Regions from separate parts of the Homo sapiens genome. Here region 2 is linked to region 1. The links come from fine-mapping of genetic effects on gene expression. Tissue or cell type: thyroid. Region 1 holds a variant in brackets; the other region holds the start of a gene. All regions are shown on one strand. Distances are between the middles of the regions.

What was found. PIP is the estimated chance that this variant, and not a neighbour inherited with it, causes the effect. A credible set is the group of variants that fine-mapping cannot tell apart.
Region 2: DMRT3 starts here. The variant in region 1 is the best candidate, but not a certain one, in a credible set for the expression of DMRT3 in thyroid (GTEx, PIP 0.84).

What each region holds. Positions count from the first base shown.
Region 1 is chr9:783,301-791,404 of GRCh38, forward strand. No RefSeq gene overlaps it. Among named protein-coding and RNA genes, the nearest start is that of DMRT1, 54 kb to the right of the region's middle. The variant A/G (reference allele first, on the strand shown) is at 3,333.
Region 2 is chr9:973,044-981,147 of GRCh38, forward strand. DMRT3 (doublesex and mab-3 related transcription factor 3) reads left to right here and starts at 3,612. Exons shown (of 2, transcript NM_021240.4): 1 at 3,612-4,412. The coding sequence starts at 3,959. RefSeq lists enhancers at 392-2,245, 2,778-3,279, 3,280-3,779.

The sequences.
Region 1 (8,104 bases):
GTCAAACTGTATTTCATAAATATCTATAATTACAAGATATCAATTTAAAAAAAAAGCACCTGAAAATGTTCTGTGCTAAGCAGGTCTATGTAAACCTACCCTCAAAGTCTGAGGAAGCTGAGGGGCCAGAGGAGGAGGCAACAAATCCAGTTTCTCAGCGGGGAAGAAAACAAAAAACAAAACAAAAATGTAATAGGCCCTTAAAAACACAAGCCATGCCTCAGGCTGCAGGCGAAGAGATGGGGTGTCCCCTCTCTGTTACCCCCATCCCAGACCCAGGGCTTATATATTAGAGGGAATTTGCCTCACGGCAGTATTTATGGTAAGTATGTGTTTACATTAACATCAAGGTAAACAATCTAATGGCAGGATTTGTGGTACATGAAAGTAGAAATCTTACAGGCATTCCCGGGACTAGCGTTGAAGAAGTCAACGTGGCAGATTAGCATCAAAGATGGAGCTGCTTTAGCCTCAGCACCGACTAGACTAAAATAGTCAAGAAGTTAACCGTGTTTTTAAAGGAAGCACTAGCCTAGCCTAAAAATGTTTGTGACTGCTGGAGATTTTAAATGATCCTTGTAATGACATCTTGTAATTATAGATATTTATGCGATACAATTTGATGTTTTGATATTATATACTGTATAACGATCCAATCAGGGTTTTTAATGTGTCACCTCAGGCACTTATTTCTTTGCAGCGAGAACATCCAAAAGCCTCTATTTTAGCTGTTTTATAATATTCAGTACCTTACCATTAATCACCGTCACCTGACTAAAAGAACACCAGAATTTACTTCTATCTAATTGAAACCTGGTACCTGTTGGCCAGCTTCTCCCCATTTTCCCCTTTCCTTCTCCCCTCCCCAGTCCTTAGTTCACTTATTCCTCCCCTCCCCGCCGCCCACCATCACTGTGGAGCAGCAACCAGTCAGAGAATGCTGTTCATCCCCCAAGGAGGTTGTGAGGTCAAATCACAAACTGTCTTTCCTCTATGCTCATTCCACAATAATCAACACTGAGGGCTTCTGTGGCCAGATGTGTAGGGGTTTTTCCCTACGTGCCAAGCAAGTAAATCAACATGCAGTGACATCATCTGGGTATCCTCCAATCCAGTTCAACTCCAACACTCTCTACCTGGAGACAGTGTCAGACACCACATGCTGAGGGCTCAGTCCCACAAGACTGTCCCCAATTCTGATGCCAGTTGAAAGCCTAAGGTTGTGTTACATGCTTCTGACCAACTAGCTGTAAATTGGGGATCCCACAACCTCCTCTTTGAGTCTGATTTGCCAGGATGGCTTACAGAACTCAGGGAAACACTTAGGTTTACTGGTTTATTAGAAAGAATATTACAGGCCAGGTGCAGTGGCTCACGCCTGTAATCCCAGCACTTTGGGAGGCCAAGGCGGGTGGATCACCTGAGGTCAGGAGTTCGAGACCAACCTGGCCAACATGGTGAAACCCCGTCTCTACTAAAAATACAAAAACATTAGCCAGGCATAGCAGTGCACACCTGTAACCCCAGCTACTCAGGAGGCTGAGGCAGGAGAACCACTTGAGCCCGGGAGGTGGAGGTTGCAGTGAGCTGAGATCACACCACTGTACTCCAGCCTGGGTGACACAGCAAGATGCCATCTCAAAAAAAAAAAAAAAAAAGAATATTACAAAGGATACAGATAAAAAGATACATAGAGATGTATGGAAGGGGTATGGAGATTCCATGCCCTCCCTAAGGACACTGCATTCCAGGAACCTCCACGTATTCAGCTATCCAGAAGTTCTCCATACTTTTAGAGAGGTATGGAGAATCCACCCCCTTGGGCCTTTTACAGAGACTTCGTTTGATAGGCATGACTGAAAGATGGATAGCCATGTGGAACTGGCTGGACAAAAAAGGTATGATCTAATAAATACTAATAGACTGAGTGGGGAAACCCAGCAAGGCCTGTCTGTTCAGATTCTTCCTGGCCTCTCTGTGCAGCATTCCTTCCTCCTGGGTATGGGGCAGGACCCTTTCTTTACATCTTATGGCCTATAATCAGACAAGATAGATCAGAGAATTTCTTTATAGTCAGCTTCAAGACCGAAAGGCTGGGGGACATTCCTGCCTTGGAAAGAAAACGAGCAAGTGAATGGAGGGCAAGAGAAAGAGAGATTCTGTTTTCTAAGGCCTAAAGGGCCCTAACATTATAACAAGGGCTATGGGAGTTATGAGCCAGGAAATGTGGATGAAAACCTGTGTGTATTCTTTCAAATATGTCATATATATCATAATATATAACAGATCATCTCATTTATGCCCTCTTCAGATGATACCCAAGAAAGTAAAGAAAAAACAAAGCAGAACCAAAGGCCATGGAGAACACAGACAGGGAACAACTCGTGGGAGCTGACCCAGGGCTGCCGATTCAAGAAACATACCGTCTCTGCAAGAGTGGAGGTCTCGGAACATCCGCCCACCTTTAGTCTACTTCAGGATTGCTATGGACCAGCAAATGCTGTATATCTCCCACTTCTCCCATTTCCACTGGGAGCATTTAATGCTGTTATCCCAGCCTTATTCAACGATTGCATTTTTAGAGAGAGAACACGAATAGCTCATTTTCCTAGTTCGCTGGTTTCAAAATCAAGAGGAGCCGTACTCCACATCAGTGAGACTGTGCCTCATTCACTAAAGTAGACACCATCATGACATCCTAAACTTTGAGCTGAATACTGAAACTGGATGGGACGCTGGGGCTCCCTAGGAAATGGGAGGGGGATGGGTATATTGCATGGGAAGGAGGGCTGAATTGAATATTTGGTTACCAGATGGGTCGACTGTTAGACTTATCAGTGATGTTCACTAAGTATTCTAGTTCTCTCTCATTCTGGGGACAGGGTAGGGCTGCACTTCCTGTTCCCCTTGTAGTTGGTAGAGACTGAATGACTAGTTCTGACCAATGAATCATGAGCAGAAGTGACATATGTCACTTCTGAGCCTGAGTACGTAATTGTCAGTGTGAGACCCTCGAGAGCTCCCTTTCCCTTTACAATGACTGGGAACGTTCTACAGAGTGGCTGCTCCTTTAGCCTGGGGCCTGCAGGAAGGATGCAAAGCAGAGCCTCCAGCCAACAGTGCACTGATGGACAAGTTGGATGAGCAAAAACCCCACAGGCCAGGCTCAGTGGCTCACCCTACAATCCCGGCACGGCGGGAGGCTGAGGGGGTTGGATTGTTTGAGCTCAGAAGTTCAAGACTAGCTTGAGCAACAAAGTAAAACCTGTCTCTACGAAAACAAAACAAAACAAACATTAACCGGGTATGCACCTAGAGTCCCAGCTATTTGG[A/G]AGGCTGAGAGGGGAGGATCACTTGAACCTCAGAAGCAGACGTTGCAGTGAGCTGAGATCATGCCACTTCTCTCCAGCCTGAGCAACAGAGCAAAGCTGTCTCAAAAACAAAAAAGCAAAAATGTCTTTGTCATTTTAAGCCACTGAAATTTTTAGCTTGTAGGTTTCTACAGCATAACCTAGCCCATCCTAATACTAGCGCAGAAAGGACTAAAAATCAAGCATCTTCCTAACAGCTACTCCAAAACTCTTTCTACAGTGATTTAATCCATAATAAGGGAGAGTCTGCTCAGTTTTTAGGGAATTTCAATGAAGTTGATTCCACAATACCCTTTGGGAGCTAAAAGTTTTATAAATCTTAGCATCTTCACTGATTGTCTCACACTGTAGTTCAGGCCTTTTTGTGTGGATATCCCTGAAGACTGATTAAACCACAAAATCTCCCCACCACCCCCAACCTTCTGGAGCCTAAAGAGGTTCCTGTTCATGTGCAAGCCACTGTATTCGGTTTCTAGGGCTGCAGGAACAAAGCGCCACAGACTGGGCAGCCTCACAACAGTGTATGCCTCACAGTTCTGCAGGATGGGTCTCAGAGCAAGGTTTCTGGAGGGTCGGTTCCTTCCAAGACCACACAAAAAAAGGATCTGTTCAAGCCTATTTAGGTTGTACATGGCCATCTTTCTCAGGTATATTCACATCTTTCCATGTATGTTTGTATCCAAATTTCTTTTTTTTTTTTTGAGACAGAGTTTCACTCGTCACCCAGTGTGGAGTGCAATGGCCTCATTTCAGCTCACTGCAACCTCCTCCTCCTGGGTTCAAGCAATTCTCCTGCCTCAGCTGCCCAAGTAGCTAGGATTACAGGCACCCACCATCACGCCTGGCTAATTTTTGTATTTTTAGTAGAGACAGGGTTTCACCATGTTGGCCAGGCTGGTCACGAACTCCTCAGGTGATCCGCCCACCTTGGCCTCCCAAAGGTCTGGGATTACAGGCGTGAGCCACCGTGCCCCGCCAAATTTCCTCTTCTTAGAGGGCCACCAGTCATACCGGATCAGGGCCCACTCTATTTATCTCATGTTAATGGAAGTACTTCTTTAAAGACCCTATCTCCAAATATAGTCACATTCTAAGGTCCTGCAAGGTTAGGACTTCAACATAGGAATTTTGGTGGGGAGCACACAATTCAGCCCATAATAGCCACCCTCCAAAAGGTACTGTTTGGGGTCTTCAAGAGCTTGCGAAGATATCTGTATATAGTCAGTTCGTTTGCAGGATGCATTTGGTCGAAGAAAGATGAAAAGGATTGAGAAAATCTTAGCTCTCTTCTCATCTATGTGGTCTTATCCTATCACAAGCTTCTGTAGCAGGGGAGGCCACCCTTTTGAGGCCCCTTTTGCCCAGTATGTAGCAGAGAGCAGGACAGAAAGGGGTGTCATGACCTTGAACCCACAAAACTGAGCTGAACACACCTGATTCCATGACAATAAATGAATACACATTTGGAATCAATTAATATAAATTGTTGTCACTTCCATTCAACAGACACCTTGGAGCGCTCGGCTTATCACTCTTAAGCATCACGTTACTTACTCAACAGTTCTAAGAAGCTGAGAGTATTAGAGTTCATATTTTATAGACGAAAAGACGAAAGCTGAGGTCTTCTGGCCAGGATCAAAGCTTTTAGGAAAAGGTGCTGGGAAGTTTCCAGAGGGGCTCCTTGGAGGGTGGGATTGTATCTTACTCTAAGAGACACACAGGCCTCAGTGGTAAAGAACGTAGGCCTTGAGCTGGTCTAGCTCTTTGAACAAGTCACCTGCCATCACTGTGCCTGTTTCTTCATCTGTAAAACAGAAAATTTTATATTATTTAGTGGGGTTGTGAATATTGGAAGGGATAATATATGCAAATCCTTCAGCACAGTGCCCAACAGAGTGCTAAGTATCTGCTGTTATTCCCAGCTTGTCCAGCGCCCAGCACATAAATGAGCTCCATCTATCTATGCTGAATAAGGAAATGGACACTTGAATGGGGAAAGGTGGTTGGCTAAATGGCAGTAACTAGGGCTGCAAGATGGAGGAAAAGATTTTTGTTGTCGCTTCAATTGATTTTGCTTAGTTTAGGAGAGATATAGATGTGTAGTAAGCAAATAAATGAACAAGATGCTGCGCGGGGCTGGAGTCCAGCTAGGATGCTATGGTAGGGTGCGGCTGCTTCTTGGGCCACTGCACATACCCTGCAGGCCAGGGCACAGGGTCTAATGAGGGAAGGCTGGTGTGGGTGGCACCTCTGCACCACACTGAGTGGTGCTGGTTTCTCACTTGTTTTCTGTTGATGAGCACTTTGCACTGTAAAATACCCTAACTGCACAGTGCTACACGGACTCTTAAAAGTCACAGGGGGCCGGGCACAGTGGCTCATACCTGTAATCCCAACACTTTGGGAGGCCAAGGTGGGCAGATCATGAGGTCAGGAGACTGAGACCATTCTGGCCAACATGGTGAAACCTCATCTCCACTAGAACTACGAAAATTAGCTGGGCACGGTGGCACACACCTGGAGTCCCAGCTACTCAGGAGGCTGAGGCATGAGAATCACTTGAACCTGGGAGGTGGAGGTTGCAATGAGCCAAGATCATGCCACTGCACTCCAGCCTAGCAACAGAGGGAGACTCCAACAAAAAAAAAGTCACAGAGACTGGGTGTGGTGGCTTACACCTGTAATCCCAGCTCCTTGGGAGGCCAAGACAGGAGGATTGCTTGATTCCAGGAGTTTGACACCAGCCTGGGCAACATAGTATAACTTCATCTCTACAAAAAATTTTAAAATTAGCCAGGCATGGTGGCACATGCCTGTAGTCCCAGCTATTTGGATGGCTGAAGTGGAACGATTGCCTGAGCCCTGGTTGAGACTGCAGTGAGCCGTGATGGTGCCACTGCACTTCAGCCTCGGCAACAGAGTGAGACCTTGGCCAAAAAAAAAAAAAAAAAAAAAAAAAAAAAAAAAAAAAAAAAAAAAAAAAAAAGTCACAGGGAAAGCCTGTCAGTGCTGCTGCTGCTGCAGCAACATTTCTGAGTTCAGTAATTAATGCATGTTAAGATCCTCCTCAATCTGTTCACATGCCTGACAATCTAATGAAGTATCAGCTATAGCCCATTTGTCAAAACCCTAAAGTCTTGTTCTCTTAATCTCCTTCATGCTAAAATTTCCCACTAAAGAAAGCAAGAGGCTTTAGCTGAAAGCAGGGCATAAGGCCCACTCAATGCAGTGTGGTCTCTGCTAAATGACTATTGGTTTGCGAGGACTACTGTAACAAAATTACTACAAACTGGGTGACTTAAAACAATATAAATTGTCTCACAGCTCTGGAGGCTGGAAGTCCAAAATCAAGGTGCTGGCAGCACTAAGCTCTCTTTGAAGAATATAAGAGAGCCCTTGTCTCCACTCACTTCCAGTGGTGGCTAGCAACCCTGGCATTCCTTGGTGTGTAGATACATCACTGCAAACTCTACCTGTCTTCATCCGGTCCTCTTCCCTCTGTGTCTGGGTCTTCACATGGTGTTGTCCCCTGTGTGTCTGTGTCCACATTCTCCCTCTTCATATAAGGATACCAGGAATTGAATTAGCCCCCTCTAATCCAGTATGACATCAATTTGTTTTTTTTGGCTTTTTTGGACAGGATCTCTGTCACCCAGGCTAGAGTGCAGTGGGTCATGGCTCACTGCAGCCTTGACCTCCAGGGCTCAAGCAATCCTCCCACCTCAGCCCCTTGAATAGCTGAGTCTACAGGGGCACGCCACCACATCAGGATAATTTTTGTATTTTTGGTAGGGAGGAGTTTTGCCATGTTGCCCAGGCTGGTCTCCAACTCCTAGGCTCAAGCAATCTGCCCGCCTCAGCCTCCCAAAGTGCTGGGATTATAGGCATGAGCCACTGTGCCCAGCCTGACCTCACTTTAAATTGACTAATTACATCTACAAAGATCCTATTTCCAAATGAGATCACATTCTGAGGTTGCAGGTGAACATGAATTTGGGGGTGGGGGGTGATATGACAATTGTCAACCCAGGACAGTGACTAAATCTTCCTGTGTGAGAGCTGGGGGCATGCTCCAAAGTGGCTGATTAGCTTACTCTCCTGAGGATACACTTACCTTAGCCCCTGGTCTGCTCCCAGCTAATGATAGTTGAGCACTTACTCTGGGCCAGGCCGTACCTAATTTTACACGCAGTAGCTCATTATATTACCACAAAAATCTTAAGAGGCTCTCACCATCCTCATTTTAAAAAAGAGGACACTAAAGGCTCTGAGATGTTAAATGAACTACAGAGGCCCCCATAGGTGAACCAAACTACCTCTGTGCCCATGTTCTTAACCCACATGCTCTGCTGCGTATGGTGGGAAACTACGGTATCAGAGCATTTAGGTCTGAACCAAGTGTGCTTCTTTTCTGCTTATTTTGCTTTTTGTAGTTTTAGGAAATGTAAAACTAAAATATGTAGGGGAAATACTACATCAATGTTCACATTTTTACATTTATTTTTTGAGACGGAGTCTCACTCCGTCGCCCAGGCTGGAGTGCAACGGCGCGATCTTGGCTCACTGCAACCTCTGCCTCCCAGGTTCGGTTTCAAGCTATTCTCCTGCCTCAGCCTCCCAAGTAGCTGGGACTACAGGTGCACACCTCCACGCCCAGCTAGTTTTTGTATTTTTAGTAGACAGGGGTCTCACCACATTGGCCAGGCTAGTCTTGAACTCCTGACATCAAATGA
Region 2 (8,104 bases), 190 kb after region 1:
GTCACAGGCCGTTCTGCTCTCCCTGTTTGTCCCCAAAGGCCTCGGCACGTGGGGATCTGGAGCAGGCCTCAGGCTGCGACCCGTCTCTTCCCCTACCAAAATTATGTGGGAACAGCGGTCCAGGACCTTCCCCTGTTCAGCGGTATCCCCGGGCCGGTGACCCCGGGGTTCAGTCGTCTCCCCGACCCCAAGCGGCCTCTGCTTTCCACCCCTCGCCCCGGAGGGCGGCTTCGGGGATCTCATGGGGGGTTTGCATGAGTCTGTCCCCAGCCAACTGAGGGAGAACCAAGACATTATTGCCATCTAAAGAAATTGATTGCTGGATGCCCCACTGCCTGGCTGGACATTCCCCCAACTCCTTTCAATTTGAAGCGGGCCGAAGAGCGAGGTCGAGAAGCTGACCAGGTGAGAGCTGAGTAGTTCACGCACAGGAAGAGGGGACAAGTTTTTCTGTTTTCACAGGGGTTCCTCACGCTCAGGCTTCCAGCGTCTGCCTGCACTGACATCATCGTGGTCGCGATGAAAACAGTGAAATAGGAACCCTGACCTCCCCTTCCATGAGAATCCAGCAGAGAATTTGCTGATGTGTTATACATCCGGGACAATCGGAAACTGCCGTTTTGATTGAGTATTAGTTGGGATGAGGAGCACATACCAGGACTCCCAGATCTGGAGTCCTCACTTTCTCAGCAAGGGCACCTGCATCCTGAGCTTTTACATGTACACACACCCAGCGATTGTGTGTGCCGAGAAAGACCCACATACGCACATTGTTTTTTCCTCTTCCACGATTATCTGCCAGAATTCTACTCAGTTAATTGCGGTTTGAGAACACACCATCCACAGGAGAGCACCAATGGATCTAGTCTAGTGAGGTTACATTTACTTGTAATCCTCCCCCTTCCCTTTCCCATTTCTTTGATGATTTTTCCCATAAGTGTGTAAGCTACTGGGACTTAGTAGAAGCAGGCCGCTCCTCCTAAATGTGATTTGGACCATATGCTTTCTACATTCATTCCCGCTTCGGCTTTTCTTCTCTGCACTAACTGCTAACACGTTATAGTCACCTTGAAATTTCCTCTGCTATTTTCCAATTAAAAGCTTAATAGCCCTGGAAACGGAGTTCATGTGGTGAAGTTTACCACAGCCCCTTGTTCTGAAAGGCTTTCTGCTGGGATCCCATTATGTGCTTGAATAAACCCTTTCTGCAAACAGAAATGGGACTCGGGGTTGTCAGGTGTTGGGTTACAATAGACTTTGAGGCAGGGGACATTTTACCAACATAAATACAAACCTGTCCCTATAGGGAGATGTTGTCAAATACTGGGATATGGAAAACATTCCCATCAAATATGAGAAAAGGATTACTGCACTATATCAAATGAGTATTTAGATCTCAGCCCCCGATGTGCACCGGAGTGAAACGGGCCCCCGGGACCAAATGCCAGACTGTTTGAGTGGCAACGAGATAGGGTGGCTAGGTGACCGACGGGGGAAAAGGGGTCGCCTTGGTAGTGAAAGTGCCCCCACAAACCTGGTGCAGAGCTCTTCTGCTTTCCTTTTAAAAATTTATTCATACTCAAGTTCTTTATACTTCCTCGTTTCACTGTTTGAAGAAAATCGGAAGAAATTTGGTTTTGAAAAAAGTCGTTGGTCCCCACGTTTCCAAGAGATCCGGAGGTTTCAGCGCAATAGTTTTCAGTTAAGGTGTCATTTGAGGCCCTCTATATCGCAGCACGTTAAATGACTCGCGTCCAGCTCCCCATTTCCTAGCCTCGGGCCTACAGGGCTGGGGGCGACCTCTGCCTCCCGTCCCCAGAGCTTACAAAATTCCTTCCAGTTGTATTTTAGGGCTTGTTTTCCTAGAGAAGGTTGAGACTAGAGGAAGGATTAAAGTGGTGGGGGAAGGGGCAAGACCGAGGGGTCCCTACCCCACGCGGCTTTGGAGGATGGCCTCCCAGGGTTAGCACTCGAATGCTAGAGCTTCTTGTCCACACTCTACCAGGTCAGTGTCCCGCGATCCCCACCTCCCGGACGCGTATGAAACGGGAACAGCTAAGGGCTTCAAGGGAAACACACAACTGGGGTTCGGTTTTCAACCCTCCTCTCCGCAAATCAGCCTTCTGGGCAGAGGGTTGGCTGCTAGAACGCCTGGAGGTGCTTCCCTTGAATTCATGGCAAACACCAGAGGAAAGTTTTCAGGTTGCTTGCTTACTTCCAGGGCAGTACAGAGAAAAGCGGCCTCCCCGAGGGGACAAGGGCCTCTGTGCCCATGAGGGGTCGGACATTGCAGCGGACTTGCCTACGCTCTCATCTAGCATTTGATTCCCCACCAGGAGATGGGCTTGGTGCACGCTCTCAGAAGCGCATCCACCGAAGGCTCTGGAACTGCCCCGCTTCGCATAGAGCTATTGTGCTGCCCTGCAGTGTATCCACTTGTTTTGTTTGTTTGTTTGTTTTTTGGTTTTTGCTTGTTTGCTGATGGGCAGTGGGGAGGTGCGAGGGTGGAGGGCCTTCTTTGTGCATATATAGCGATAGTCTGCACTAGGCCAAGCCCGCTACTCCTGGGAGAATGGGAACACGCAAATAATCTAAACAAAGTTTTCTGCTGTCATCTTGTGAAGGACCCTCTCCCCCAAGACATCTATGACTGGGGTCTATGGGTTAAGGAGGTGAAAAAGTGGCCCCATCCCATATCCATAACTGAATCACAGAATCCGTGGGGATTTGAACTGAGTGGCTGGCGCAAGACCTCCGTTTGCTTCCAGTAGCTGCTGGGAGCGAGGGAAGAGGATATCGGTAACTTTGGGGGCGCCAATGTGGCTTCTGTGTCTGCCCCTTGAAAGTTTATACCCGGCGCTTAACAAATCCTTTACAGGAGCACGTACGTCCCTGACCTTTCAGGATACTGTTTTATATTAAAACATGGACAGGAGGGTAGAAAAGTAAAATTCGCCTGCAAAATGGCTTGTCATCCTTGGGCCGGCAGATCTCCAAAACCATTTTCTTCTAAAGCAACAAAAGAGAAAAAAATACGTTCTAAAAGGAAATTACGAAAAGAGCCTAACTTTCCTAAACCAACATCACTTCACTCCCCTATCCTAAACTCCACCCAGGTCCGGGGTGCAACCGCAACACTCCCGTAGGTTCGAGTTCTCCCGGAGCTGAGCTTCTGCGGCCAAATGTCGGGATAAAAGCGGCCTTGGGCTCGGAAAAACGCGGCCAGATCTGGACTGGAGGGAGGAGAAGAGAGAGAAGCGGAGCGGCCACCTCACTCGCTTACAGGCACCCCCACCCTCACTCCCGCTGGTCCTCCCCTTCTCCGCCCCGCGAGCACCGCCGCGTTCTGGAGCGCCGCAGTCTCCAGCCGCGGGCTGGGGTAGCGGAGAGGGCTTGGAGGAGGGGGCCGCGAGCGCCCCCGCGAGAGTGGCCTGGCTGCAGGTGGCAAGGAAGGTGAAGTGCAGGCACCCGAGGGGCGCAAAGGAGGAGGAAGGCGTGGGGCGGGGAGTGCAAGGAGACAGGGACCCCAGGGGCGGGGGTGGCGGTGGGAAGGAGGAGGGGTTGGGGGAGGGCGGCGGAGGTGTTGGGTCCGGCCGGCTCACGAGGGAGCTGCAGAAGAGCTGGCTCAGACCTTAATCAGAGCTGTCGCCGGCTCCTTGCAGCCGCCGCAGCGCCTCCGCGAAGGAGGACGTGCCGACCCGGCTGCGCGCCCAAGGCAGAGGCCCGCGTCGGCGTTGGCTGGGCGTGAGCTGGGAGGCCGAGCTGTGAGCGCGAAGGGAGCTGGAGAGACGACTGCGGCACCTCCGGCCGCCCCGGAGCACACACGACCACCGGGGCTGCGGGACCAAGGGCCGCGTCGCCCGGAGGCCGCCCCTGAGCGGGCCTCGCAGCCCCGCCGTCCAGCGCTCCCTGGCCCTCTCCCGCAGCCAGGCTGCCAACTCATTCGGGAGCCCGGGGCATGAACGGCTACGGCTCCCCCTACCTGTACATGGGCGGCCCGGTGTCGCAGCCGCCACGGGCGCCCCTGCAGCGCACGCCCAAGTGCGCGCGCTGCCGCAACCATGGCGTCCTGTCCTGGCTCAAGGGCCACAAGCGTTACTGCCGCTTCAAGGACTGCACCTGCGAGAAGTGCATCCTCATCATCGAGCGGCAGCGGGTCATGGCTGCGCAGGTGGCGCTGCGCCGGCAGCAGGCCAACGAGAGCTTGGAGAGCCTCATCCCCGACTCGCTGCGCGCTCTGCCAGGGCCCCCGCCGCCGGGGGACGCCGTCGCCGCCCCGCAGCCGCCGCCAGCCTCTCAGCCGTCGCAGCCGCAGCCGCCGCGCCCTGCTGCCGAGTTGGCCGCGGCCGCCGCGCTGCGTTGGACTGCCGAGCCGCAGCCCGGGGCTCTGCAGGCGCAGCTCGCCAAGCCAGGTAAGAGCGTCTGAGGTGCGGGAGTTTGGCCGGGCGCGGGGGCAACTTCGGAGTGCCAGCTGCAGCTCCACTTGGGAGGACTGGAGGCAAAGTTTTGGGACGTGGGCCTGTCGGGGCTTTCCTTCCTACTCTCCGCCAGGCCGGGGCTTCCTCTCCCGGGAGAAGCCGGCTGAGTCTGGACCCAGCGCGAGTGGCACTCGCGCCCGCAGGGAAGGCGCCTCCGGGCAGCCAAACGACGGGACTGTGCGTCAGTATCGCCAGGTGCCTTCCCAGGTTGAAGGGTTCGGAACGTGTCAGATTGAGCAGGGAGACAACGGAGTTGAGACAGGACAAAATTAAAACCCACGTGCGCACACTCACTACGGTGGGGTCGGATTTTCCTGGCTGCAGGCTTTAGAGGTCCTTGCCATTTGGGGGTTGGAATGGGTAGGTAGGTGTAGGGAAGGAGCCAAGGCCAACACTCGGCTGAGTCGAGCTGGCTGTGCTTCTCGGCCGGCCCGGCCCTGCCCAGGGCCCAGGAAAATTTGAGTGAGGACAAGTATCCAACTCTCAGAACCCTGGCCTTTCTAGCTTTGCTCCGTGGCCTCCAGACTCTTGTAACTGGTGAAATAAGTTCCATTTAGCAATGATAGTAAAAGGGTCCGGAAAGGCTTGTGAGCTGATAGCGGGAAAAGAATCTGATGCGCCCAGAATTCACTCCTTTGCAGAACCTCCTAGATCCTTTAACACTGTTCCCCAGGCTGCCCTCAGCTGTCTTCGTGGTTTAAAGGAATACAAAAAATCTGATCCCCCACCACCCATCCGTTTCCATCCAGGCCTCCTGAGCTTGGCAGGCCTGAGTTGAGTCTCTTAGTCTCTCTCTTCCTGGGGAATTTCTAGCTTGCGGTTCTGCCCAGCTCAAGAGCTCTTTTGATGGCTCTTGGAATTCAGTGGATATGTGTTTGGTGTTTCTCCTTAACTGGGGCAAATGTGCAAAGGAACACAGCCCACCTTCTCCCGGAAGGGGGCATGCTGGAATTAGGAGTGGGAAGGTCCAGAGCCCTCCTGTAAGTAGAACTGTGGCAAAACTGGTACCTACACTGACCTGCCAACTCCCTAAAGACGGTACCCCTAGCTTCGGAGAAAGGCTTTCAGGAGCCCAGGACTGCTTTGTCTGGATCCTGTGGAGCTGAGGAAGTGAGGCGGACTCACCTGTTTCATGGTGAGTCAACGGGTGACTGGCAGGTGGAGTTCTGCTGCCCTGTCTTTCCGCCATGCTTTCCAGGCCTGAAGCTCTGAGAACAGCCTGTGTGACAGTAGAGCTGGGAATTTTAAAGCCTGAAGAGAGTTTGCCGAACTTGGATTTTGTGGATATTTAATCCAAGTTAGCATATAAACGTTTCTCAGAAATGATCGCCAGTTGTCTCTCTTTTGTCTGTCTCATCTTTTTATATTTATGGATTTGTCACAGACGAAGAGGAGGGAGGAGAAAAAGGTTTTATTATTTTTCTCCCATAGGTTTGAACAAATAACAAGGAAGAGTTTGGTCTCAGCTCTAGAATTGGATTTGTACCAATATATTTTCTTAATTTTTTTCCATTTCCAGCTTCTCTGGTTCCGTTTCCCCCAGGACTAGGGCAGAGGCCTGAGTTAACATCAGAGGTTAACTCAGCAGCACTCCTGTGATCGGGCATTGGGTTCTGTGGTTTTTATCCAAGGAGATGCCTTTCACATCCTGTGTTCTTCAGAGTATTCTTTGGGATAGCTAAAGTTCATGATTTCTAAAGAGTCACAAAACTAAAAACACAACCCCAGGAGGAGGAGGAGTGAGGGCAGGCAGGAAGGCAGAGTAGGCAGCGGCAGCAGGATACGTGCTTTGGGAGAATAGAAAAAGGAAACGGATCTCAACTGGACAAAGCAGAGCTGTGCTGTTTTACTCCTACTTAGCACTCAGGGATAGCCTGAGCCTTCCGAATTGAAAACAAGTAATTGCAAAGGAGAATAGGATTTATCACAAGGCGAGGTCCAAGTGAGGACTTTGGGGGACCGAGGCATCAGGGACCAAGGGCTCAGTTTCCAGCTGGTCACCCCCACCCCCCCATACCTTGTACATTGATGTACACAACTTTTGTTTTCTTCTTTCACTTGCTGTGACCCCATAATTCCCATTTTTTTAAAAAAAAGCAAATCACCACTCTGATGGGGAGTGGGGAGAAAGGTAGGAAAATAATAGATGATTGTTTAGGAAGACAGGCATACAAGTGGATCCATTCTACACAGTGCTTGTAGAAATAAAGTCTATTTGGGGTTTAAGCTGAAGAAAACTGCTCACTGAGACTGCCTGTTGCTATAGGTATTATACCCTTTTTGCAGTTGTTCTAATAATGTATTTGTGTATAACATTCCATATGTATTTAGAAGCATATCAGAACTACTCCTGAATAAGTGCAGAGAGTAAGCAAAACTAAGTGCAGAGAGTAAGCAGAACTCTATTGGAATGGTAGTTCCACATGTACATTAAGTATACAGACCATCAGAAATCTTTCAATATCTGCTGGCAATGTAGATCTATTACTTTGTGAACTTTGACTTTGAAATGTGGTTAGTCTTTTTGCGGGGCAAAGGACCTCTTTAATACATAAGCTGTGAAGAGAGATTTTTTTTTCTTGTAAACAGAAGCACATGGAGTCTTTCCTCTCCAGAAATCTTTGAGAAAAGCACATGCCTTAAGGAAGAGTATGTTTGCTGTGAATCACTGGAGGAAAACCACCCCGTTGAGGGAGTGACATATTCACATCAAAACTCAGTTTTGTAACTGGAAGAATTTTTTCTCAAATTCTGCTTTAGATTCTTTAAAGGAATGGGGTTATTTTATCTAATGGTGTAGTATGTTGAATATCCCTTTCAATGTGTGGTGTTTTTAAGGAGAATTTTCATATTCTAGTGGTTTTTACTTCTAGTTATGAAGTATTCTTTTTTCTTTTTGAATGTAGATTTCTCCTTCTCTTTGATTACCATCTACGATGGACCTGGAATTAATTATTAGATTTTGATTGAGCTGAACATTTTGATTTAAGCTATGTATAGATATATTAAGCTATATATATCTATTAAAAGCTATATATATAGCTTAAATTTAAATTCTAATTTAAGCTATATATGTGTGTGTATATATATATGTATATATACATACACTATTTAATTCATTTATTCTTCTCCTAAATTCCCTCTATGTTCTTCTCATACTCCTTCTCCCCATGAAAATACAGGAGGCATGAAGATCTTCCAACTGTTAGTGTATCTGAATCAGCAGTTTTAATCAGCCTAGCCAGCCTTTCAGGACGTGGGCTCAAGAGCTGAGGGAAGTTAAGGGTCACTGCCAAGGTGAAAAGCTAAAGTTACATTCTTGTGTTGTGGCTCCCTTCCCTACCCCCAACTTTTCCTCCAGGGGAGTGTCCTCGGACACCTTAGACTGTGGTGCGATGAGAAGAAAGATCTGTGGCTGTAGACTCTTCCTAGGTCTCCATCTGCCATCAAAATGAATATGTACACACATTCTTTTAAATGCTTTTAAAAGGAAAAAGAAATCGAAAACATGGTTAGGAATAAGAGAGAAGGATCAAATGGGAAAGTAGGATCTTCTTTCCTGTTTATTTCTTAGGGGGTGGGGGCGGAGCAAACAAGATAACTATAGGGGGAGAAGTTAGGAGATT